Homo sapiens: one gene and its partners. The protein of the gene in region 5 purifies or fractionates together with the protein of the main gene of each other region. This does not show direct contact. Each region holds a gene or a part of one and is shown on either strand. Other genes may lie near its edges.

What was found.
Region 1: the proteins of ADD1 (region 5) and INF2 purify together in Homo sapiens (affinity purification with mass spectrometry; one large-scale study listed by BioGRID and IntAct). This does not show direct contact.
Region 2: the proteins of ADD1 (region 5) and TMOD1 purify together in Homo sapiens (affinity purification with mass spectrometry; one large-scale study listed by BioGRID and IntAct). This does not show direct contact.
Region 3: the proteins of ADD1 (region 5) and NUBP1 fractionate together in Homo sapiens (co-fractionation; one large-scale study listed by BioGRID). This does not show direct contact.
Region 4: the proteins of ADD1 (region 5) and NSUN2 fractionate together in Homo sapiens (co-fractionation; one large-scale study listed by BioGRID). This does not show direct contact.
Region 6: the proteins of ADD1 (region 5) and SVIL purify together in Homo sapiens (affinity purification with mass spectrometry; one large-scale study listed by BioGRID and IntAct). This does not show direct contact.
Region 7: the proteins of ADD1 (region 5) and PLCB3 fractionate together in Homo sapiens (co-fractionation; one large-scale study listed by BioGRID). This does not show direct contact.

Annotation. Positions count from the first base shown.
Region 1 is NC_000014.9:104,703,118-104,706,617, forward strand, and holds part of INF2 (inverted formin-2), read left to right. Parts: coding exon 1-103; intron 104-177; coding exon 178-337; intron 338-798; coding exon 799-832; coding exon of another isoform or gene 833-836; exon of another isoform or gene 837-1,692; intron 1,693-2,917; coding exon 2,918-3,059; intron 3,060-3,500.
Region 2 is NC_000009.12:97,543,166-97,546,665, reverse strand, and holds part of TMOD1 (tropomodulin-1), read right to left. Parts: intron 482-3,500; coding exon 325-481; intron 1-324. UniProt on the Homo sapiens protein: Blocks the elongation and depolymerization of the actin filaments at the pointed end. The Tmod/TM complex contributes to the formation of the short actin protofilament, which in turn defines the geometry of the membrane skeleton.
Region 3 is NC_000016.10:10,757,342-10,760,841, forward strand, and holds part of NUBP1 (cytosolic Fe-S cluster assembly factor NUBP1), read left to right. Parts: exon of another isoform or gene 1-531; coding exon 532-686; exon of another isoform or gene 687-936; intron 937-3,500. UniProt on the Homo sapiens protein: Component of the cytosolic iron-sulfur (Fe/S) protein assembly (CIA) machinery. Required for maturation of extramitochondrial Fe-S proteins.
Region 4 is NC_000005.10:6,626,545-6,630,044, forward strand, and holds part of NSUN2 (RNA cytosine C(5)-methyltransferase NSUN2), read right to left. Parts: intron 1-3,500. UniProt on the Homo sapiens protein: RNA cytosine C(5)-methyltransferase that methylates cytosine to 5-methylcytosine (m5C) in various RNAs, such as tRNAs, mRNAs and some long non-coding RNAs (lncRNAs).
Region 5 is NC_000004.12:2,846,844-2,850,343, reverse strand, and holds part of ADD1 (alpha-adducin), read right to left. Parts: intron 1-3,500. UniProt on the Homo sapiens protein: Membrane-cytoskeleton-associated protein that promotes the assembly of the spectrin-actin network. Binds to calmodulin.
Region 6 is NC_000010.11:29,456,972-29,460,471, forward strand, and holds the end of SVIL (supervillin), read right to left. Parts: intron 1,619-3,500; coding exon 1,463-1,618; exon of another isoform or gene 1,363-1,462; coding exon 1,276-1,362; 3' UTR 367-1,275; downstream 1-366.
Region 7 is NC_000011.10:64,258,030-64,261,529, reverse strand, and holds part of PLCB3 (1-phosphatidylinositol 4,5-bisphosphate phosphodiesterase beta-3), read right to left. Parts: intron 3,058-3,500; coding exon 2,817-3,057; intron 2,646-2,816; coding exon 2,561-2,645; intron 2,473-2,560; coding exon 2,286-2,472; intron 1,502-2,285; coding exon 1,296-1,501; intron 131-1,295; coding exon 34-130; intron 1-33. UniProt on the Homo sapiens protein: Catalyzes the production of the second messenger molecules diacylglycerol (DAG) and inositol 1,4,5-trisphosphate (IP3).

The DNA of each region.
Region 1 (3,500 bases), on a different chromosome or scaffold from region 5:
CAACGTGATGGTGAAGAAGCAGGTGTTTGAGCTACTGGCTGCCCTGTGCATCTACTCTCCCGAGGGCCACGTGCTGACCCTGGACGCCCTGGACCACTACAAGGTGGGCGGCAGGGCCTGGGCCTGGGCACATGGGGCTCCCTGCCTGGGTGTGCCCTGACCCCGCCCTCCCCACAGACGGTGTGCAGCCAGCAGTACCGCTTCAGCATTGTCATGAACGAGCTCTCCGGCAGCGACAACGTGCCCTACGTGGTCACCCTGCTTAGCGTGATCAACGCCGTCATCTTGGGCCCCGAGGACCTGCGCGCGCGCACCCAGCTGCGGAACGAGTTTATCGGTAAGCACCTGCCCTGGGCCGCATGCCCGCTCCTGCCCGCCTCTTGGCCAGTGCATCCCATGCTGCATCCACCTGGGGAGGTGGGAGCGCCACAAAAGCTGCCCCCGACCCAGGGCCCCAGAGGAAGGCGCCATCTCGGGCCTGCCACCACCTGCCCCTTCAATGGACACAGGCCTCAGAACGCCTGGGGGTCAACCCTGGACCGTTCTCATTTGTGAGACTGGCCAGGCAGTGGAGCCGGACAGGGGGCCTGAGACCTCGTTCTAGCCCTGCCAGTTCTGGCAGTGAGCCCTGAGTAAGCATCACTGTGTGTCCAGCATGATGTCTCCCCTCCAGAGCCTCAGGTCTCTGGTGTCCCATGAGTGCAGCAGGGCAGGGTCAGGTGCTCTGGGTGGCAGAAGTGAAATGGGGAAGGCGGGGAGTGGCCTCCGAACCCTCTGACCCTGTCCGTCCCTTCCCAGGGCTGCAGCTGCTGGACGTCCTGGCTCGCCTGCGGTGAGTCCCCACTGTAGCGGTCCTGCCGGCTCCCCCTCCTGCTCCCAAGGCCAGGCCCACCTGCCCTTTGGCTCCCAGCCACCTCACCTAAGCAGCACCTCCAGATGGCAGGGAGGTGGCTCCCTCGGAGTAACCCCAGGGGTCCAGCCAGAAGCCAGGTCTCAGGCTAGAATCCAGCTCACTGTCCCTGGCAGCTGCCCACAGAAACTAGGGTTGCAGCAGCCATAGAAAGGACAGAATGAGCTCATATCCTTTGCACACCGTGGATGGAGCTGGAGGCCGTGATCCTAAGTGAACCAACCCAGAAACAGAAAATGAAATGCCAATAAGAGGGAACTACAGGGTGGTTCACGTGGACGCAAGATGGAGACAGGGACACGGGCTCCAGGGCGAGAGTTGAAAAACTACCTACAGGGTACAGTGTTCGTCGCTACTTGGTGTCAGGCCCACTAGAACAAGGGTCCCCAACCGCCAGGCTGCGGACCGGTACCTGGCCTATTGGAACCGGGCCACGCAGCAGGAAGTGAGCGGTGGGCGGGCATTCCTGCCTGAGCTGCACCTCATGTCAGATCAGCACTGCATTAGATTCTCCAGCGCACGCACGCGCGCAAGGGATCCAGGCTGCGCGCTCCTCATGACAATCTAATGCCTGATGATCGGGGGTGGAACAGTTTTATCCCTAAACCATTCCCGTCACCCCAGTCTATGGAAAAATTGTCTTCCACAAAACCAGTCCCTGGTGCCAAAAAGGCTGGGGACCACTGCCCTAGAAGGCAAATCGCCTACGTTACACAGTGTACCATGTGGCAAACACGCACATGTACCCCCGAGTCTAAAATAAAAATTTTTTAAAAAAGAAACTAGGGTTGCCAGGTACTGTATGGGACATGCAGTTCATTCAGGTTTCAGATACACAACAGACGATATTTTGGTGTAAGTATATCCCAGATGTTGCATGGGATATACTTATGCCAAAAGTTATTCATTGTTTGTCTGAAATTCAAATTGAACAGGTACTCTGTAGTTTCATTTGCTAAATCTTGCAGCCCTGCTGGGAACCCACATAGCTGAGAAGCTCTATCCAGGCCTCAGTCAGGACTGTACTCAGGGGGGTGTCCTTACACCCAGGGAAATCAGCTTGGAGGAGCCCAGGGCTAGAATGCCTGGTGTTGAAATGGCCTCAGGGGCCAGGCGCGGTGGCTCACGCCTGTAATTCCAGCACTTTGGGAGGCCAAGATGGGCAGATCACCTGAGGTCAGGAGTTCGAGACCAGCTTGGCCAACATGGTGAAACCCCATCTCTACTAAAAGTACAAAAATTAGCTGGCCGTGGTGGCATGTGCCTGCAATCCCAACTACTCAGGAGGCTGAGGCAGGACAATCATTGGATCCCAGGAGGTAGAAGTTGTAGTGAGCTGAGATCGTACCACTGCACTCCAGCATGGGTGACAGAGCGAGACTCCATCTCAAAAAAAAAAAACAGAAATGGCCTCAGCAAAGTTTGCCCACATGGGTGCCTGTGCCCCACCAGTGTGGGCTGAAGGGGGCCGGCCCTGCCTGCGGAGGGCTGTGCTCATTGACCAGACTGAGATGACTGGCAAGTCCTAGGCCCAGTGAACACTAAGTTTCCTCCTGCTCAGGCCAGAGCCCCGCCCCTCCTGTATCCATGCAGCCCTGTGGACCCACCTCAGGTGTGGTCTTCACTGTAGTCACGCAGCGCCCAGGGGAGGGCCTTCCCTCCCCCAAGGTCACGGCCCGGTTCCATTGTGTGCCACCTCCCCAGGCCTTGGTGCACGTTACTCGATGGGAGTGGGCATACTCGCCCTTCCCCTTCCCCAGGGGCGTGCGGGTGCCTGGTGACCCGGGGGCAGCCTGGCAGGGCGCAAGGCACTGACCTGGGAGCTGCCACTCTTAGGTCGCTATCCCTGGCTATGTGGGTCACATGTCAGCCACAGCTGGCTATGGCCTGGCTCAGAGTCCCAGGTGGGCTGAGCGGGGCTGGTACACTGGCGCTGACCCAGGCTGCCCCGCCTGCGTGTTGGTGGTGGCAGCAGCAGGCTTAGCCCACCTGGCCCCTCCTGCACAGAGACCTGGAGGATGCCGACCTGCTGATCCAGCTGGAGGCTTTCGAGGAGGCTAAGGCCGAGGACGAGGAGGAGCTGCTGCGAGTCTCTGGCGGGGTCGACATGAGCAGCCACCAGGAGGTCTTTGCCTCCCTGTTCCACAAGGTGGGCTGGGGGCTGCAGGGCGGAGGGCAGCCCTCCAGGGCAGGCTGTGGCCCTGAGGTCCAGAGGCTGGGCCTGGAACGGTCCTCCCTGCCCTGGTCAGACCCTGCTGTGACCTGGGCCATGGTGCCAGCTTTGGGGTGAGACTCCAGGGAGCAGCAAGGACCCAGGGGTTGGAAAGGGAGGTGGCGCCTAGAGCGGGCAGCCTGGGGGCCGGGCTGGGCCCTGGGGGCAAAGCCAGGGCCACAGGACCCAGAAGGACGGGGCTCCAAAGACCAGTGCGGCCCACAGCCGGCCTTACTGTCCTGGGCCCCAGCTGCCCAGTCCCCATCAGGTGGGCTTCAGAGGCCTCAGGGCTTGGTGAGGGGCTAAGAGGCTGAATTCTCGTCAAGCTCAGGCCTTCCCCTCATTCCCTGAACCTTGCAGCTCTCATCTGGGGGCAGT
Region 2 (3,500 bases), on a different chromosome or scaffold from region 5:
ACAGTTTCTTCTTTTACTCTCAAAACTGTTTAGGTTTGCGTAAAAAAATAATCAGGACATCCTAGTGAAAGAGGGTTTAGGGAAAAGTTTTGCTGATTTGAGTGGATAGGAGTCTTTCCTCAGTCTACCCCCAAAACTTCATGAAATCTACATCATCCATAGATGCTTTTGAAGTTGGGTTTGGGTGTTTTGGCCAGGCAGGGATGAGGACAAGGAGGCCCAGTCACATTTGGCCCAACACAGGGCCTGGCAGGGCCTGGCATACAGTCGGCACTCAATGGTGCATGGGGAGTGGCATATTATAACAGTAACATTGTTCAGTACCTCGTTTTTCCCCTGTGTAGGGGACCAGATCTTCTCGGTCCTTAAACTCCTTTGCTTGCTTTTCCAAGTGATCCAAGAGCTCCTCTCTTTTAAAGGGGCCCGTGGGCGCCTTGGTGGTCTGATCCTTCTGCCTCAGGCCTGCAGGCAGCAGTGCATTCTACATTGGAGGTTGTGGGGGGGCAGGAGAGAGAGAAAGAGAGAGAGAGAAAGAGAGAGTGGTCAGCTGCTGAAGACTTGCACTTCTCCAGAAACTCATCATCGAACAGAAGGGACCTCAGAGCTCATGGAATCCATGGTGTTCCTCGTTTTACAAGTAAGGAATCTGAAACCCCAGGACAGGGAGGGACTTGTCCAAGGTCAAAGGCAGACAAGGGGCAGAGAGAGGCTAGGACTCAGGTCTCAATCCTCCAGCCCATCCCTGCCTCTAACATTTTTGAAGGAGAGGAGGTGAGGGGTCAAGGCAGCCGACTCCAGTCTGAGCACAGAGGGCACTGAAAGAGCATCTGCTGAGTGATGAATATGATTGAGTTGTTGTTTGGATGCATAAAGATATTCACAGGAGTTGAGTTGAGTATCAGGTGGCTCCGGAGAGAGAAGAAGCCAAAAGAGGGTTAAGCTGGGGCCCTGGATGGAGAATCAGGCAGGAAGAGGCAGACCAAAAAAAAAGCTGGAGAAAGGCCCAGGAAAGCAGCGAGGTGAGCAGTGCCCTGCAGAGCTAAGAGGAGGACGGGGCATGCTCTCTGGCCACAGTCCCTGCTGGCCCTACCCGCTGCCTTCTAACCTCCTGACGGGTCTGTGCTCACAACACACTGGTGGTTAAATATTTTGAACGTCGCCCCTGGAGATGGGTATCTCAAGAAACATAACATCAACCAATTGTTCCCTTCTCTTCTTCAAACATAAGCAGGCTTCTAGGTGTGGGCTTACTGCTAAAGCAGATTCCTATTGGGGGGATTGGAGTTATCCTCATGGGCTTCACTTTAACTCAGCCCCCAGTACCTTAGGGAGTCAAAGAAGTTTATAGCTGCAAGGATGCTTAGAGATCATCAGTGCACACACTCTCCCATTAGGGGAACTGAGGCACAGAGCAAGGAAAGATTTGCCCAAGGAATTTCAGGACAGATCTAGAACAAAAACCAGCGTTCTTCTTCAGATTTACGAGAGGAGGATGACCATTTCTAATCGTTGTGTGCTCCCTGTTCCCTGCATTTGCAGAGCTAGAGGAATACATGGGTGGCTGGTATGGGCAGAACATCACCCAAAAGATATGCACCCTCAAACTGACTAAACTGAAGAGTCATTCCACCTCCAACCTTTTTTTTTTTTTTTTTGAGATGGACTCTCGCTCTGTTGCACCCAGGCTGGAATGCAGTGGCGCAATCTCGGCTCACTGCAACCTCTGCCTCCCAGGTTCAAGCGATTCTCCTGCCTCAGCCTCCTGAGTGGCTGGGATTACAGGTGCCTGACACCACGCCCGGCTAATTTTTTGTATTTTTAATAGAGACAGTGTTTCACCATATTGGCCAGGCTGATCTCGAACTCCCAAACTCAAGTGATCTGCCTGCCTTGGCCTCCCAAAGTGCTGGGATTACCGTTCCCAGCCCCACTTTCAATCTTTGTACCATTAAAATGCATATCTTCAGTCACTGTCACAAACTCCATATCCTTTTCTGAAAGCTGCCTCTGTGAGGGGACTGTTATCAGGGATATGAAGATCACTGTATGCCTGGCACATAGAGGGATACAGCTTGGGAGGGAATACTACTGTTTAAGGAATCTTTTTAATTTTTTTTACTTTTTTTTTTTGAGACAGAGTCTTTCTCTGTCACCAAGGCTGGAGTGCAGTGGTGTGATCTCGGCTCAATGCAACCTCCACCTCCCGGGTTCAAGCAATTCTTCTGCCTCAGCCTCCCGAGTAGCTGGGACTACAGGCGCATGCCACCACACCTGGCTAATTTTTGTATTTTTAGTAAAGACAGGGTTTCACCATATTGGCTAGGCTGGTCTTGAACTCCTGACCTCATGATCCACCCACCTCGGCCTTCCTAAGCCCTGGGATTACAGGCATGAACCACCACATCTGGCCTAACTAATGCATCATTTTTTAAAAGGTGTACTATGCATAACACCACAGTGCTGTTTCAGTAAGAGTAGTGGCTGTAAGATCAGGAGACCGGGGTGTGATCCTGCCTCTGGGAGGGCTGTAAGTGAGCAGGGCCCACCCAGCACAGAGCCCGGACAGACAGATAATGGGCTTGGCAGGTGGTGCTGGTGTACTTGCAGAGAGATTTAGGCCACAGATCAAAAGAGACACTGGGAGTTGGAGCTTTTTATGAGAGGACAGTAGGTAGAAAATCAAGGCCTGACTGACTTTGGGGTGGGGGGCATCAGGAACATAAGTGATGCTCCACACATCCCACTTTTCCTTAAGCAGCAGTTCTCAGATATTGTCCACCATGATAGGCAGGACAGGTGATGCTCCCAGGTGAGCCATGCTTCTGTGGGCATGTCCCAGGTTTGATGGGACTTCCTGTAGCTAGCTGTGTGTGCCCACGCCTTCTCTTCCACAGCAGGGAGCTTATGGTGATGCAAGAGAGTGAGACAATACCTCACTGCCCTGCAAACATCAATGTGTGACTACCCATAATGAATAATCCAAAGTCTTTGTGACATGCCTGCACTTCACAGTTGACCCTACATCAGGCTTAAGCCCTGACTTGGAGTAATAATGATACAACTACACAATCTTGGGCAAGTCCCCTAAATCTCATTGTGCCTCAGTTTCCATGGCTGTAAAATGTGAATAATGAGAGTTGCTCTCTCATAGAGTGGTTGAGAAAATTAAACTAGATAATGCAGAAAATGTGCTCAGCACAGTGCCTAACATAGTAAACGGTCAAAAATTATTACTTATGATCCCTTCTATTGTTATATAATCAGGTAGAATATATGTTAATAGGAGATTGGTTACCCAAATATGTATGTTTAACAGGGAATGTATTATCCAAATATAAATTCAAAAAACTAAAACACACAATTATAAAATGAATTAAGCAGTGAAAGCAAGTGCTCATGCTTCTTAAGGATCCCCACAGGGAAGGCCTACAGATTTTCATTACCATAAAGGGTTTTAATGGCAGTAAGATGCTGGGGCATGTTCTGGCCCCAGAAAGGCT
Region 3 (3,500 bases), on a different chromosome or scaffold from region 5:
GGCTTATTTGGGTCAGAGAGGTGAGATCAACAGGAGGTTGATCTGGTACTGAGACTTAAGGTAATAATGTGAAAGTGTTATCAGGGCAAGCTTTAGCCTCAGCACTATTGATATTTTGAGCCAGATAAGTCTTTGTTGGGGGGAGGAGTAGACCGTGTTCTACACCATAGGGTGTTAAACAGTGTCCCTGGCCTTTACCCACAAGATGCCAGTAGCACCCCCTACTCTATTTGTGACAACCCAAAATGTCTCCAGACATTGCAATTCACTCCCAGTTGAGAGCCACTGACTTACAGCATAGACCAAAGGCACAAAAAGATCAGATCATGCTTCTCCGTGAGCTGGGCACAGTGGCACGCACTTATAGTCCTAGTTACTTGGGAGGCTGAGGTGGGAGGATTGCTTGAGCCTCAGAGTTAAGAGCCAACCTGGGCAACATAGCAAGACCCCATCCTTTAAAAAAAAAAGAGGGAGTTGAAAGTACAGAAAAGAAAGGAAAAGTAAGCATCCCCTGTGGATTCCTCTTTCTAGGCATGATCAAGCAGTTCCTCCGAGATGTGGACTGGGGAGAGGTCGACTACCTCATTGTGGACACCCCACCTGGGACGTCGGATGAACACCTCTCGGTCGTCCGGTACCTGGCCACAGCACACATCGATGGAGCAGTGATCATCACCACTCCCCAGGTGAGCGAGCTGCCAGCTGGAGCTGGGTCCAAACTGTGCTCCACACTGTGAGATTTCTTTCCTACCTGGCTCTGATACTCTGGTCTCACCAAGGCTCTTCCCAGTGTGTGTTCCGCAGCTGCATCTGATGTGGGTCTGCAGAAACCTCGTGTTAAAAACTTCAGCCAGCACAGTGATTCACACCTGTAATCCCAGGACTTTGGGAGGCTGAGATGGGAGGATCACTTGAGCCCACGAGTTCGGGACCAGCCTGAAAAACATAGCAAAACCCCATCTCTACAAAAAATATTTTAAAATTAGCCAGGCATGGTGGCTCGCGCCTGTAGTTCCAGCTACTTGGGAGGCTGAGGTAGGAGGATCATTTGAGCCTGGGGAAAGGAGGTTGCAGTGAGCCATGATCACGCCAGTGCAGTCCAGCCAGCGCAAGCGAGTGAGGCCTTGTCCCAAAAGATAAAAATAAGAAAAACTTCATCTTTGGTCTAGACATTTGCAGCTGACAACCATTCAACGATTTGGTTTTTTTTTAGTCCATGGATTAAACAATAGTGGGTCAAGAATGCTTTTTGAACTTTCCTTGAGGAAACTAGGGAAACCACCAGTGCAGTTATAATTCATACTGTGCTGCCTGGCCCCGTCAGCCTTGCCGTGTCCATGTGTCAGGTCCCCCAGCCTACAGTGGATTTTCCGTTTACATCCCAGGATGATTTAGGAAATCTCTCCAGTTTTCAACAGAACCAGCTGGGTGCAGATAGGGATTTCGGGATAAGCCACTGGGTGCCTTCGCTTCTTCCGTAGTGACACCCAGCAACCCTCTGTAGCAGTCACCTAGTGGCTGTACTCCAAGGCCCATGGTGAGCCCGAGCTGAGAGGAGAGCGATAGGAAGTTTCCTCTCTGTAAGTCCTGCAGAGAGCAACTGCAGGCAGGACCATGGTGCTATCCATCTCAGGGGCCTGAGAAACTGAGGGCTCTTCTCCATCTCCACAGTTACGCCTGACTTCTCTTCATGACGTTCTCCTCCACACTTAAGAAAGCCCAGCAAAGGAGGTTTGATTTGATCTCACTGGCCAGAATCAGTCAGGACGACCCATAGTCTCACCTCATCCAGCACTCACTGAGCTCTGACTCTGACATGCCGGGCACCAGGGCAGTAAAAAGGCCTGGCTCTCCCTGGTGGCCCCTGTGGCTCCCTGAGGAACACAGGTGCTGGACACAGGGATGAGGGTACAGCCAATGGAGTGGCAGGCCCAGCGGCCATGGGAAGGGTGTCCGGGTCAGAAAATGGTGCAAGATTCATGTCCACCCTGGCATCCTGCAGAGAGGGGACATGGGGACGCAAGGAGGAGCAGGACACCAGCTGGGACCCTGGACAGGAGGGAGGATGGCCTGGCCCGGGTGATGGCAGTGGAGAGAAAGTGTATTTGTCCTTAGGAATGTTTTCTGTCCCATTTTTAAAAAGTGGTTGGTGCTGGGCACACTGGCTCATGTCTGTAATCCCAGCACTTTGGGAGGCCGAGGCAGGCAGATTACTTGAGGTCAGGAGTTCGAGACCAGACTGGCCAATATGGCAAAACCCTGTCTCTACCAAAAAAATACAAAAATTAGCCAGGCGTGGTGGTGGGCACCTGTAATCCCAGCTACTTGGGAGGCTGAGGTGGGAGAAGTGCTTGAATCCAGGAGACAGAGGTTGCAGTGAGCCGAGATCGCGCCACTGCACTCCAGCCTGGGCGACAGAGCAAGACTCTGTCTCAAAAAAAGAAAGAAAGAAATGAGAGACTGAGTCGCAGCCCATTGACTTTCTAGCTGAGCGCCCCTTCCTCCGCATCCCAGCCTCAGTGTCAAGAGCCAAACAGGCATCTCAGGAAAAGAACAGGCCCAAAGCTGCGAGCCTTTCGGGCTCACGTGAGTGGTGAAGCTCCAGGTGCTAAGGAGTCACTACACCTGACAGTGACAAGCCACAGCAGGACTTGGGTACAGGGATCTGTGATAACATTAACTGAGGAAAATAGGGAGCTACTGAGCGGTGTTTATACACAGTAATCACATTGGAAAAACTCAGAGTTGAGAAGGAAATGCAAAGTTGTCCACATTGGGCAGTATTCCTTATTTCCTTTTAGTCAGTTGTTTGTGTTTATAATTATCTAGAGCAGGGATTGGCAAACTTTTCTGTAAAGGGCCAGATAGGAAGTAGGCGTTGCGGACCCCACGGTCCCTGTCCCAGCCCCTTAGCCGTGCCACTGTGGCATGAAGCAGCCACAGACGGTGCCTAGAGGGACGGGCATGGCTGGTTCCGGAGGAACTTTATTTATAAAACCAGCCAGATTCAGCCCCCAGGCTGGGGTTTGCCAAGCTCTGGTCTAGAAAACAGTGCACACACTGGCTTAATATAGTATAGTATAGGGACATGGAGCATGTAGATGCGTTAAAAGGTCATTTTCAGATAGGCACAGTGGCTCACGCCTCTAACCCTAACACTCTGGGAGGCCGAGGCAGGAGGATCACTTCACACCAGAAGCTTAAGACCAGTCTGGGCAACAACCATCTCTATAAAAAATTAAAAAGTTAGCCAGGCAGAGTAGCACATGCCTGTAGTCCCAGCTACTCTGGAGGCTGAGGCAGGAGGATTGCCTGAGCCCAGGAGGTCAAGGCTGCAGTGAGCAATGATTATGCCACTGCACTCCAGACTGGGCAGCAGTGAGATCCTGTCTCTAAAAAAAAAAGTCATTTTCTTTTAGGTTGATTTCTTGCTATTTGGCTGTGTGGGAAGTAAATAGCACCTCGAACAAACAGGGCTTAGCACTAGTAGGTACTAAATA
Region 4 (3,500 bases), on a different chromosome or scaffold from region 5:
TGCCGTGTTGGCCAGCTTGGTCTCGAACTCCTGGCCTCGAGTGATCCGGCCGCATCAGTCTCCCAAAGTGTTGGGATTACAGGCATGAGCCACTGTACCCCACCCAGGATGTGCTTTGAAACTTGGCCTGCACCTATACAGGCATCTGCACCGTACAAATGAGCACACTGATGTCATGCAGCACCATGCTCAATCCAATGCCAAACCAAGTGTACCACGTCACACGGCCATAAATCTTAGTGTAGTTTCAGCAATTCTCACTAAACCTGAGATGCAGTAATACACTCAATTTAACAATGCAGGCTCACAATGTTTCCATGCGTCAAATTGTAGCTAGAGTGAAAACCATGAAAATAAAACTGGAATGTCTGGAAAACACAAACACATTTGACTGCTTTTAAACTCTGATTTTTTGATGGAAACAAACTCAGGACTTAAAAGCCCGACACTGCTCAAGTCAAAATATTACAAAATATACCTGAAAAGCATTTTCTACCAAATAATGAAGACGAAACTGGCTGAATCTGTCCACGGCCACCCTCCAAAGGTCCCCAGCGCTTTGATTCTATCTCATATAGCCCAGTTCCCTCCTCGACATTTAATGTGTTCAAAAATATAAAGCCAAAAGAAAATCATATTCATAAGGCAATTTTAAAAAGAATTGTTTTAAATAATCTTTTGGACTCATTAGAGGCGAAATAGTAGGTTACATGCAAATTTGGCATTTGCTATAGTATTGGGCAAATATCTGCTGTGCCACTGTAACCTCTACTTGCAAACAGCCAAATGCCAGCTCATATAGTATCTGGTCTTCCTGAACTTGTCTGTCTCAAAGCTAGTACGATCATGTAAGTTATTGCCTTACCAAATCACTAAGACATCAATATGAACACCACATGCCATTTAGACTTATTGTAAAGAGCTGAATTTTCATTTTCAAATATAGATAAGCAGTCTAGATATACTTTGAACAAATATAGCCTTATATGTCTTTTTCGTCAAATTTCTGATAGTCAAAATGTAAACGTACTATTACAAGATTAAAATTCTACAGTATTTATAATTGTGAAGGCTGTTGATCTCATGTAAAGAAACATTTAGGAACTCTGAAATATTTAAATACAAACAGAAACTAACAGATAAATGTTTATTTCCTCTGGGTACAGAGAACAGCCTGGGCAACAAAGCGAGGCCCTGTTTCTACAAGAAATGTTTTTAAATTATGTTTCTTATACAGCTTTAGGAACAGCATCATCTTTTTATGAACCAAAAAATGTTTATTAAATCTTTGTAGATTTTAACATCAAACAAAATGAGAGGTATATTTAATTTTTAGTTACTTACTTCAAATTTAGCTTGTGTCTTTTAAGAAAAAATCCTATTTGGGCTTTTTAGAGGATAAGTTAAAAGGACCACTGTCATCTTTGCATATTAAAAATTCTCAAGTGGTAAGGACTCTGTAAATATATACAACATCTATGACAAACCATCCTCAATCTAGACATTAAAAAGCACGTAACAGGCGAGGTGCAGTGGCTCATGCCTGTAACACCAGCACTTTGGGAGACCAAGGTGGGCGGATCACTTGAGGTCAGGAGTTCAAGACTAGCCTGTCCAACATGGCAAAACCCCAACTGTACAAAAAATAGAAAAAATAGCTGGGTATGGTGATGGGGGCATGTAATCCCAGCTACCTGGGACGCTGAGGTGGGAGGATCACCTGAGCCCAGGAGGTGGAGGTTGCAGTGAGCTGAGATCATGCCACTGCACTCCAACCTGGGCAACAGAGACCTTGTCTCAAAAAAAAATATAAGTAAACAGCACATAAATAGAATGATAATAAGGTGCACTCTGAACAATTGGTTGTCAAAACAATGCTTCTATAAGAATGCTTTAGGATAATTTCTCATTGTTCTGAGTCTATGGAAAGTAAGAAAAAAATGAAACTGGCCCAAGCTATGGTCCTATACATAACTTTCCTTCTAGAAAATGTAATTTCAAAAAACGTTTTCCTAAATTATATTTCACTATGTACCAGAGGATTGGGAAGAATATTACATGATCTATTCCTGCATCTTGAGCAATACAGAAAATTACCAGAAGTCCTGGAAAGCTTCTGCTTTACTTGCTTGCTGAGAGATTTAGTACCCTAAAACTGACAGATGAATTTGAATAAATAAATGTTTAGAGAATACAGCTGCCAAGAAACTGGCATTGGCCAGGAATGGTGGCTCATGTCTGTAATCCCAGCACTTTGGGAAACCAAGGCAGGAAGATTGCTTGAGCCCTGGAATGCAAGACCAGCCTGGGCAACAAGGTGAAACTCCATCTCTACAAAAAAATAAAAAAAATTAGCCAGGCGTGGTGGCATGCACCTGTAGTCCGAGCTACTCAGGAGGCTGAGGTGGGAGGATCACTTGAGCCTAGGAGGTCAAGGCTGCAGTGAACCGTCATGACATCACTGCACTCCAGCCTGGGTGACAGAGTGAGACCCTGTCTCAAAATAAAATATAGAGAAACCATCATTGATAATGGAAAAAGCCAAATATTAGAAACCCAGATCTACAATGTTTTGTTCATACCCTTCAGCTGTGTGTTCAGAAAATTAAAGCAAACAAAAACATAGCTGGCTGTTGGCAGAGAGCAATTCACCTTCATTCTTCAACTACAGACAACCTGCAGATTCTAAGAGTTTGGTAATTACCTTGTCATATACCCAGACACATTGTTAAACAAGGTGGAAAAGCAGCTATGAAATGTTAAAAGGGCTGATCAAATCCAAGTGTAACTGTAGTTTGCAGAGAATAATAAAAAACTAGCAAGCCTTATTGACATCGTATGGTTTCTCCTAGTTTGTTGGAGCCTGCAGAAGAAAATGCCCACATGGAGGTGCCTTAAGAGCACACCTCTTCCCTATAGACACATGCTGAAACGTTCCTCCTGGACAGGAACTTCTTCATCTTAAAAGCATTTCTTATCCCGTCTCTGCGCTTCTAAACACAAGGTTTTAGAAACAAATGTTTCCAGGTGATTGTGTGAAGCAGCACATACATGCATCACTGCTAAAAATACAAACATGCCCGAGGAGAATCGTAATCCTGTCTTCTTAAAATATTTTAGATGGTTTGGCTCTGTGTTCCCACCCCAATTTCACCTTGAATTGTAATATTCCCCACGTGTCAAGGGCAGGACGAGGTGGAGATAATTAAATCCCCGGGCCGTTTCCCTCATGTTGTTCTCACAACAGTGAGTTCGTTCTCAGGGGGAGATCTGATGGTTTATTAGGGGCTTCTTCCTTTGCTCAGCACTCATTCTCTCTCCTGCCACCCTGTGCAGAGAGATCTTCCGCCATGATTTTAAGCTTCCTGAGGCCTCCCCGGCGATGTGGAAATGTGAGTCAATTAAGCCTATTTCCTTTATCTATACATTACTCAGGTATGTCCTTATAACAGTGTGAAAATGGACTACTACAGTATCAGACCTCTACTTCAAGTACAACA
Region 5 (3,500 bases):
GTGAGCCAAGATCGCACCACTGCACTCCAGCCTGGGCAAGAGAGTGAGATTCAGTCTCACAAAAAACAAAAAACAAAAAGATTTGCCTATTGAAGACATTTCACATAAGTAAAATCATGAAGCACATGGTCTCTTGTGTCTGGCTTCTTCCACTTAGCATGTTTTCAGAGTTCATCCATGTTGTACCAGGTATGAGTGCTTCAATCCTTTCTATTGCCAACTACTATTCCATCGTATGAACAGACCACATTTTGTTGATCCACTCATTAGCTGATGGACATCTGGGGTGTTTCACTTTTTGTCTGTTAAACATAATGCTGCTCTGAACATTCACACACAAGCTTTTGTACGGACATATGTTTTCACTTGGCCTTTGCATTCTCAAAGTGTTTTCACAACATTCTCTCTTTCATGTATTACATGGCTACTTAATTTTCCGATGGAGAAAAGTGAGGCTTGGGGCAGCTAAGTGACTTTCTCACCCACTCAACTACCCTCAGCAAACCACAGTAAACCCATAGTGAAGAGCCAGTACTCCTTTCATAATACCACACTGCCTATGGTTACGGCTCCCTCTCCTGTGAAATAAATTTCAAGCGACAGTGTGCAGATGAGGGAAAACATTTTTTAGGTAAGGAACTCCCTAAATCATTCTCAATACGTTAATCCACAAAGCAAATTTAAATTAAGCCCTTCAGAGTAAGAGAAGGAGAGAAGTGTTTGGGATGGGATATTCTAAAGGTCCCTCCCAAATGATGACTTTCTCCTCCCCATGCAAACAGCCACAGCTGCCATTCCAGGCTGCAGAGGCACACATGTAGTTACATCTACTGCGCCCCATTCCTGAGGCATGCCCTTTCCAGCAAATTTGAGATATACCTGTGGACTCTGTCCCCTAACGTCAGCCCCAGATGCCAGACTCCCTGGGCCCAAGGCCTAGATGCAGAGCTCGTCTGTTCTAATACAGATAACAGTATTTTGGAGGCATATATTGCTCAGATCAATTGTATGAACCCTCTTTCCCAACCTCATGAAGCACTGTCTAGGTTTATAATATTTCTGGTAATAAAGTTCAGAAAAAAACAATAATTATATTAATAATATAAGTCATTTGCTGACAGCTTAGTAGGTACCTTTTGGCATTTACTTCATTTAATCCTCACAATAACCATGTAAGATAGGGACTATTGTTACTTTAGTGTCCATACTTAATTATGTGGAGAAAATACACAGTTGGTAGGAGTATAAACCAACGTAACTTCTTAGGAGGATAATCTGGAAACATCTACGGAAAGTAAAAGTGTAATTACTCTTTGACATGGCAATCTCACTTCTGAGAATGTATCTATAGATATACTTCATAGGTGCCCAAAGATGGAAATGTAAGAATATTAATTGGGGCCAGGAGGGTAATTTGGAAATGTCTATGCAAATGAAAAGTGCAATTATTCTTTGACATAGCAATTTCATTTCTGAGAATGTATTTATAGATGTACCTCATAAGTGCCCAATATGGAGATGTAATATTAATTGGAGCACTGCTTATAACAGTAAAAACCTGGAAACAGGTCAGGTGCAGTGACTCATGCCTGTTATCCTAGCATATTCAGAGGCTGAGACAGGAGGATCACTTGAGACCAGGAATTCAAGACCAGCCTGAGCAACACAGCTCAGGCTTTTGAAACCTTATCTCAAAAAAAAAAAAAAATTAGCCAAGCCTGTTGGCATGAACCTGCAGTCTTAGCTACTTCAGAGTCAGAGGTGGGAGAATGGCTTAAGCCCAGGAGTTCAAGGCTGCGGCAAACTATGATCACATCACTATATTCCCGCCTAGGTGACAGAGCAAGAGTCTGTCTCAAAAAAAATAAATTAATTAAATAAATATATGCTCAACATGTTTAAGCTGACAGTTATCAAAAACAGTGTTACACATTAGTTATAACAACTGTTTAAAAAGGTACTTCTAGAAAAATTAAGCTCAAAAGGCAAACTGTATTAAATGTGCTTCCCCTCATTCCTTTAAACTCAAGGTTCCTCAATGTAGAAAGGCCAGAATAAGCATTAACAATTAAACAACTCTATTAAAGTTTAATATTATGCTATGTTAAGATTCCTATTTTTTTTTTTTTTTGAGACGGAGTCTCACTCTGTCCCAGGCTGGAATGCAATGGCACGATCTCAACTCACTGTAACCTCCGCCTCCTGGGTTCAAGTGATTCTCCCGCCTCAGCCTCTTGAGTACCTGGGATTACAGGCATCCACCACCAAGCCTGACTAATTTTTGTATTTTTAGTAGAGACAGGGTTTCATCATGCTGGCCAGGCTGGCCTCGAACTCCTGATCTCAGGTGATCCACCTGCCTCGGCCTCCCAAAGTGCTGGGATTACAGACGTGAGCCACCATGCCCAGCCTTGCCTCCCACTCTATTCAAAGTCATCCCTTTGCTCACTGAGATAGATGCATATCTGGTTGCCTCCTTAGGAAAGGCTTATCAGAAACTCAAAAGAAGGCAACCATTTGTCTCTCACCTACTTGTGACCTGGAAGCTCCCTCCCTGCTTCAAGCTGTCCCCGCCGTTCTGGACTGAACCAATGTACTTCTAGCATATATTGATTGATGTCTCATGTCTCCTTAAAATGTATAAAACCAAGCTGTGCCCAACCACCTTGGGCACATGTCAATCAGGACTTCTGGAGGCTGTGTCACAGGCACACATTCTCAACACTAGCAAAATAAACTTTCTAAGTTAACCGAGACCTGTCTCAAATTTTCGAGGTTCACGTGTTCATCTTGTTCTGAGACTGAAATGTGTACGGTGTGGGTTGAAACAGTGAGCAAGTAGAACCAAAATGTTTGGCTTAGAAGAAAAGTAGATACAGGTATATAAAAATGAGAAGGTTGAGTAGAATCCTAGTCTTACTTCCTTTTTTTTTTTGAGACGGAGTTTCGCTTTTGTTGCCCAGAATGGAGTGCAATGGCACTGCGACCTCCGCCTCCTGGGTTCAAGCGATTCTCCTGCCTCAGCCTCCCTAGTAGTGGGGATTACAGGCATGCACCACCATGCCCAGCTAATTTTTGTATTTTTAGTAGAGATGAGGTTTCACTGTTGTCCAGGCTGGTCTCAAACTCCTGACCTCAGGCGATCCACCTGCCTCAGCCTCCCAAAGTGCCGGGATTGTGAGCGACCGCACCTAGCTTGTTTTTTGTTTTTGTTTTTGTTTTTTTGAGACGGAGTCTCGCTCCGTGTCGCCCAGGCTACAGTGCAACGGAGCGATCTCCACTCACTGCAAGCTCCGCCTCCCGGGTTCACGCCATTCTCCTGCCTCAGCCTCCCGAGTAGCTGGGACTACAGGCATCCGCCACCACGCCCAGCTAATTTTTTGCGTTTTTAGTAGAGACGGGATTTCACCATGTTAGCCAGGATGGTCTCGATCTCCTGACCTCATGATCCGCCCGCCTCGGCCTCCCAAAGTGCTGGGATTACAGGTGTGAGCCACCAC
Region 6 (3,500 bases), on a different chromosome or scaffold from region 5:
CCTGGTCTCAGGTGATCCGCCTGCCTCAGCCTCCCAGAGTGCCGGGATTACAGGTGTGGGCCACCTCGCCTGGCCCATACAATTTTTTAAAGGGCATTGAGATCCTAAAATTGAAATTGTAGATAGATATAGCTGTGGGATAAAGAACTTCTGCTGAATGATGATTTGCAAAAGTATGTCTTCATTATAGTACTGAGTACTAATTTTATGGGGCAAATAACTCTGTATTTAATCTTATGACCTTGTATAAAATCTTGCCCTAAACTAAATTCAAATGTATAGTCATTTATACTTAATTACAAAATTTGGTGCTATGTTAATATTTACCAAAAAAAAAAAAAATTCCAGAAAGGAACATGCTTGGAATTCAATGTGAACCAGTTAATTGTTGTGTTTATTCTGATACTTTTATTTGGGAGTCCTATATCACAAAATGACATGTGTACTGTTTACAACCGGTATTAGAAATTGAGATGTTTTTATTTTGACTATTTGAGAGTAAAATTGTAGATAATGTTCCAAACCATCATCAAAAATGCAGAGCAAACTTTTCTGTATATAAACTGTACATAAAAACAAGGCACTATACATTTTTGGGGAGATATTAAGGTAGAAAGGTTGATTCGCATAGATTCTCCAGAGTCCATGCCATTAAGTACAAATTCTTTGTTCATTTTAGCACCGGAAGCAGTACTCAGAACAAGTCATACCTAATGCTGCAGGAAACATTTCCAAACGTGTATGAAGATACATATTGGTGGCAGAGCTAATTCAACAGAAGCAACTCCATCTACCTTTTCATGTTATTTTGACACCAAAACAAATCTTGAAAGTGAATGAATACATATTGCTTTGTTAAATACATATTTGACTTATATGGTGTTTATATAAATATATATATATTTTAGAATCCACAAACTATCAAAATAACACTTTATAAAGAGAACTGCTTCAAAAAAAAAAAAAAAAGGCATTGCCTAGCTGGAACAAGAAGGCAGTGCTATCTATAGCAGCTGCGGCTTAAGTGCACATAACAGATACTTTTATTAATTCTGATAACCTCCTGAATGGTGGAAAGAAGTTTCCAAACAGTTCCCTTGAACATTTACAAAATACACAACTCCGGGACAAGCAGTATCTTTAACAATGTCAGGTTCTGAAAACTCTGATTGAAAAATACTTTGTGAAAAACACCAGTCCAAAAATATATATCCATTTCCCTGGTGCAGTGGTGTTGTTGGACGTGACCGTGAGGCTCCTCTGGCGTCTCCCCACTCAGAACAGGCCTTTTGCTTTCTTCAGGTTCACCTGCTTCCAGGCGGGCAGGGCGTTGTATTCATCCCTCGTCATGTCTAGTGCAAACTGGAAACATTGGGAGAAGCGCCCCGCGGCTCAGTGAAAGGAGCCGGGCGTGCGTGTGTTGTTTTACTCCCATCCCCACCCCACCGGAAGAACCGCTTACCTCGAAGTCTTCGTCGGTGAGATAGATCTCAAGCTTCAGAGGATCGACCCCCTCCGGGAGTGGCCTGGCCAGGAGGTCGGCCAGCGGGTAAATGGTTTTACAGAGCTTGGCTAAGACGTCTTCCACGAGGGTGATCTGATTGGAAACTTCCGTGTCCTAGAGAAGAGGAGGGGGCAGAGAGGAGAGCTCGTGTCCTACATTTGAACTTGTTTTATTAAGTGCTTACAGACACACAGCCCTGTGCCACCTGCATACTGCCTGAGGATGCATAGTTCCATATCACTGAGGAGGAAATGGCTCTGAAAGAAAAGGGATCGCCCAAAGCCCTGCAGTTGTCTGGACTTTTAATTTTTAAAATTTTTAAATTTTAAATTAAAAAATGGTATTTTTTGAGACAAGGTCTCACTCTGCTACTCAGGCTGGAGTGCAGTGGTGCAATCATAGCTCACTGCAGCCTCCAGCTCCTGGGCTCAAGTGATCCTCCTGCCTCAGCCTCCTGAGTAACTGGGACTATGAGTATGCATCACCAGGCCTGGCTAATTTATTTTTCCTTTTCCATTTTTTTTTTTTTTTTTGTAGAGACTGGGTCTTGCTATACTGCTTAGGCTGGTCTCAAACTTCTGGCCTCAAGCGATCCTCCTGCTGGGATTACAGGTGTGAACCACCACACTTGACCCCAAATTTTGTTATTTTTTAGAGACAGTGTCTCACTGTAACCCAGGCTGGAGGGCAGTGGCTCAATCATAGCTCTCTGCAGCCTTAAACTCCTGGACTCAAGCAGTCCTCCCACCTCAAGCCTCCTGAGTAGCTGGCACTATTGGCATGTGCCACCACGCGCACCTAATAATTTAAAAAATTTTTTTGTAGAGATGATGGAGTCTTGTTTCTCTGACTTATAGATCTTTTCTCACCTTGTCACAGAGTTTTAAACAAACCCTGTCTCAGAACTGTCTCTGGAAAAATGTTTAGGGACTGTCCCATGAGTGAATTATGGACTAAGATTAGTAGATTTGAAGTCTAAACACCAGAAGCCTCCAAATAATGGAATTTGTTTAAAAATAAATATTAAAAAATAACCTGAAAAGAAATCACACCCCCCTTCCCTCCCCTGGCCCCATTTCTTAATCTGCAATAGAAAAAGAAGGTCAGAAAATGCACCTAGAATATTCTGGAGCAGAATCAATTTTTTTGTTTTTAAAACCACTGTGTGAATATGAACAAACTATTCTGGGTAAATTCTCTTCCTCCATTAAACTTGGGACCCCAGATTGGCTGCTCTCCTTTTGGGTGGGTGGATGGTGGGAATGCATGACTAAGAGCTGTTGCTCATATTAGAAATACATGGAACAGACTGGTGGTCAAGAGGCAGGTTTTGGGCTGGGTGCAGTGACTTGTGCCTGTAATCTCAACACTGTAGGAGGCTGAGGTGGGAAGAGTCCTTGAATCCAGGAGTTGGAGACCAGCTTGGGCAATATGATGAGACCCTGTCTCTATAAAGAATACAAAAATAGGCTAGGCATGGAAGTGTGCACCTGTAGTCCTACCTACTTGGGGTGGCTGAGGTGGTAGGGTCGTTTGAGCCCAGGGGTTCAAGGTTTGTGTGAGCCATGATTGAGTCACCACACTGCAGCCTGGGTGACAAAGCAAGATCCTTTCTCTAAAAAAAGAAGAGGCGAATTTTGGATGATCTTGCCTGCGTCTGAGTACTGACTCCTCCACTCACTGAAAGTCACTTTGGCCAAGTGACTTCGTGTTTTTGTGTCTCTGCTCCCACACCAGTAAAATGGGAATAATAATAAGATATCTTGATGGACTGTTGTGATAAATGAGAAAATCAGTGTAAAGTGCTTGGAGATGTGCCTAGTGCAGAGTGGGCACTTGCTGAATGTTAATTATTTGTATAACTTGCTGGTGTGGGAAGCCTGACTCTTCTCCGGCTGGAATCCCACAGGCCTGCACAACAGTAAATGGCCCCGCTGCTAACCCCCAAGATCTATAGTGAATACACAGGGAGGATGGTGAGTTATATCCTTCTGAA
Region 7 (3,500 bases), on a different chromosome or scaffold from region 5:
AAGCTCCCATGCCTGCCACCCACCCCCACTCACTTCGAGCAGCCTCAAAGGACTTGAACTTGACAGGTTCGATGTAGTTGACAAGCGTGGACATCTCCTCAGTGGCATTCACCTCGCTGCTGGCTGTGCCCTGTGGGCCCCAACCCAGGGTCAGCAGTGCCATTCCCGCCACAGCTGGCCATTCCCTCACCTGCCCCCCATGAAGGAGGTGCTGACCCTCTTCCCAGCACTATATACACACTGCTGGTGGTGCCGACAGTCTTCTCCCCGGGGTCTCACTGATGCGCCCTGGACACCACCCAGCTCAAGCAATTTTCCTGCCTCAGCCTCCCAAGTAGCTGGGATTACAGGCGCCCGCCACCTTGCCCGGCTAATTTATGTATTTTTAGTAGAGATGGGGTTTCACCATGTTGGCCAGGCTGGTCTGGAACCTCCCAACCTCAGGTGACTCGCCCACCTCAGCCTCCCAAAGTGCTGGGATTACAGGCATGAGCCACCTCGCCTGGCCCATATAGGTGTTATAATTATCATTACTTTTACTGAATCATTTGGGAGTAAATTATAGACATCATGACCCTTTACCCATAAATACTTCAGCATATATGGACATTCTCTTCTATAACTCCAATACAATAATTAAATTCAGGAAACAAAACATTAACATATTATCTAATATGTAGTCCATCTTTAAATTTCACTAATTGCTCCAGTAATTGTCTTTATAGCAATGATGTCTTTTTTTTTTTTTTTTTTTTTTGAGATAGTGTCTCCCTTTTTAGCCCACGTTGGAGTGCAATGGTGCAATCTCAGCTCACTGCAACCTCCACCTCCCAGGTTCAAGGGATTCTCATGCCTCAGCCTCCCGAGTAGCTGGGATCACAGGTGTGAGCCACCACGCCCAGCTCAGACTGATTTTTTCTGTACCATTCCTCACAGCTACTCAATGCTCCCCATGACAATGCTCCCCGCTCCTGCACCCCCTGGCCCTGCCCCAGGACCTTTGTACATGCTGTCCCCCTTCCTGAGGTCTCCCTGCCCCACCTCCCTGCCCAGGGTAGACTCCCTATCCTCTGCCAGTTCTGTACCCTAACTCGCACCTCCCAGGCCACATCACCAGCAGAACTGTATGCTTGTTTCCATGCCTGATGACTGAAGAGCCCTCCTCCCACCTTCACTCACACCCACACTGAGCCCCAGGAGGCAGGGGTGATGTCAGTCTTGTTGATGGTCAGACCCAGCCCCCTGGGAGGTAAATAGATGCTACCTCCCCGACCTGCCCACCCTGTGGGCCTGACCTCATCTGTAGTTGGCTTTTTGGGGTCTGTCTGTTCCTCCTCTTCCTCATCTTCCTCCTCATCCTCACGGTCAGCAGGTCCAAGAACATAGGGGCCTCGGTTCAGGCCCTCGTCACCCAGAGACTTCTGAGGCTCCAGGCTGGGCTTCTCAAGCCCTACCTCCTCCCCATTGCTCAGGCCTGGGCAGCTGTCAGAGCTGGGAGACCCTGCAGAGGACAGGGCCACAGGGTGAGGGGTCAGGACCACACAGCTGCTTAGGAAGTCTGGAGGGGTTTTTCCCAGTGTGTGCCGAGGTGACTCAGTGGGGAATTCAAGGGGTACTCTCAGGGCAGTGTGGCTTGGGGAGAGGCCAAGAGGTCGAGGTCAGATGGTATTAACCCAGTATGGGTTGAGAGGGGTCATAGGTCAAAGGTAAAGGTCTGCAGTGATATTCAGCAGGGAGGCAGATAGGGTGGTTCAGTGGGGTGAGAAGTCAGGAAGTAGCATACCACAGCCCTAATAGCGGGGTAAGGGATGACATAGAGAGGTTACAGGTCAGGGGTAAGTCAGAGCCATGTCTAAGGAGGGGGCATAGTGAGGTGAACAGTCAGGGGTGAGAGGTCAGAGGTCAGCTGAAATGATAACCAACTGGGCAGGTGAACTCAATGCGGGCTTAGGGGTCTGAGGTCACACCCAGTGTGGGATGTGGTTTACTGAGGTCAGAGGTCAGCCTTCAGAGCCATCACCGGGTTGTGGGAAGGCTCTGAGAGGTGAGAGGCTGAGGTTGGGAGTCAGGAGTTGGGGTGCAGCTGGGTGAGACGTGCACCTGAGGTCAGGGGTCAGAGGCCCCACACCAGCCGACAGGTGGTGAGGAGACAGGCCGGTTGTGGGAACAGGCGCACAGCGAGGCAGGAGGGTGGGCTGGGGGTCTGGGATGAAGTGTCACGGCGCCTGGAGCATGAGGCCAGAGGCTAGGGTCAAGTCAGGGTGGCGGGCCGGGCTGGGGCCTACCCAGCTGCGGGGAGGAGGGCTCGGTGGCCGCGGAGCTCTCGCTCAGGGCAGAATTGCTCTGCTCCAGGGGCCGCTTGCGCCCGGCGCTGTCTGGGCCACCTGCGCTGGGTCGGTGCCGCTTCTTGTTCTTCACCAGGATACGGCCCATCAGGTCCTGGGGGCTGGGCAGGGGAACGCCTGGGGCCAGCTGGGCAGGCATGGACGAGTCAGGGCCCTGGACCGGGTCCGCAGCACCCTGGCCCCCATGCCACCCCCCTCGCTCCGAGCTCCCGTACCGGGTACTTGTCCAGAGGCTCGATGAGTAGCGCGTCTCCAAAGATGGAGCGGCAGTACTCAGCCATCTTTGCCTGTTGCTTTGCCCTGCGGAACCGAGGTCAGAGGTCAGAGATCCCTCCCCCAGAGAGGAAGCTGAGGTCTACGGGACATGTCAGTGGCCGTTCGCAGGGTTGGAGGTCCCTGAGCAGTCCAACAGCACTGAAGCTGGAAGACTGTCCCCCGGTCCATGGGGTTTCATGCCAGGGGCTCACTCACGAGTCCACATGGTTCTCGAAGGAGAGGATGACGGGGTAGGGCGAGGTCTTGAAGGCAGTCTCGGCAATGGCCTCCAGCACGTCGCGCAGAGGCACCTCTGTGGTCATGGTGAAGCCGTGGGTAATGAAGGGTTCCTCCTCAGGCGGCCGTCCCTTCCACACGTCCAGCTCCACGCAGCGGCAGCCCCATAGTAGTGCCTGGCGGTACATCTCCACCGACGAGGTCCCAGCCAGCTGCCCCGCTGGGGCGGCGAGGCTCTGTCACCGAGGCCGCCCACCAGCCCAGCTCCTCACCACCCCGGCCCCACCTGGAACCAGGACATGCTGGATTTGCAGAGGGCTCTCCATCTCTCAGATGGATACCCACCACCTGTCCATCCCACCAGCGTGAGCTGGGGGGAGTCATCCCTGAGACTCACTATAGCTCCCCACTGCCTCAACAATCCCTCCCTCTCCTCACTCCCTCCACCCACCTCAGCCCTGGCACAGCTCACACCACCTCCTGTGTGGAAGACTCCAGCCCTCCCTGCCTCCAATCCAATCTCTTTTTTTTTTTTTTTTGAGACGGAACCTCGCTCTGTCACCCAGGCTGGAGTGCAGTGGCACAACCTCGGTTCACTGCAACCTCCGCCTCCCTGGTTCAAGCGATTCTCCTGCCTCAGCCTCCCGAGTAGCTGGGATTACA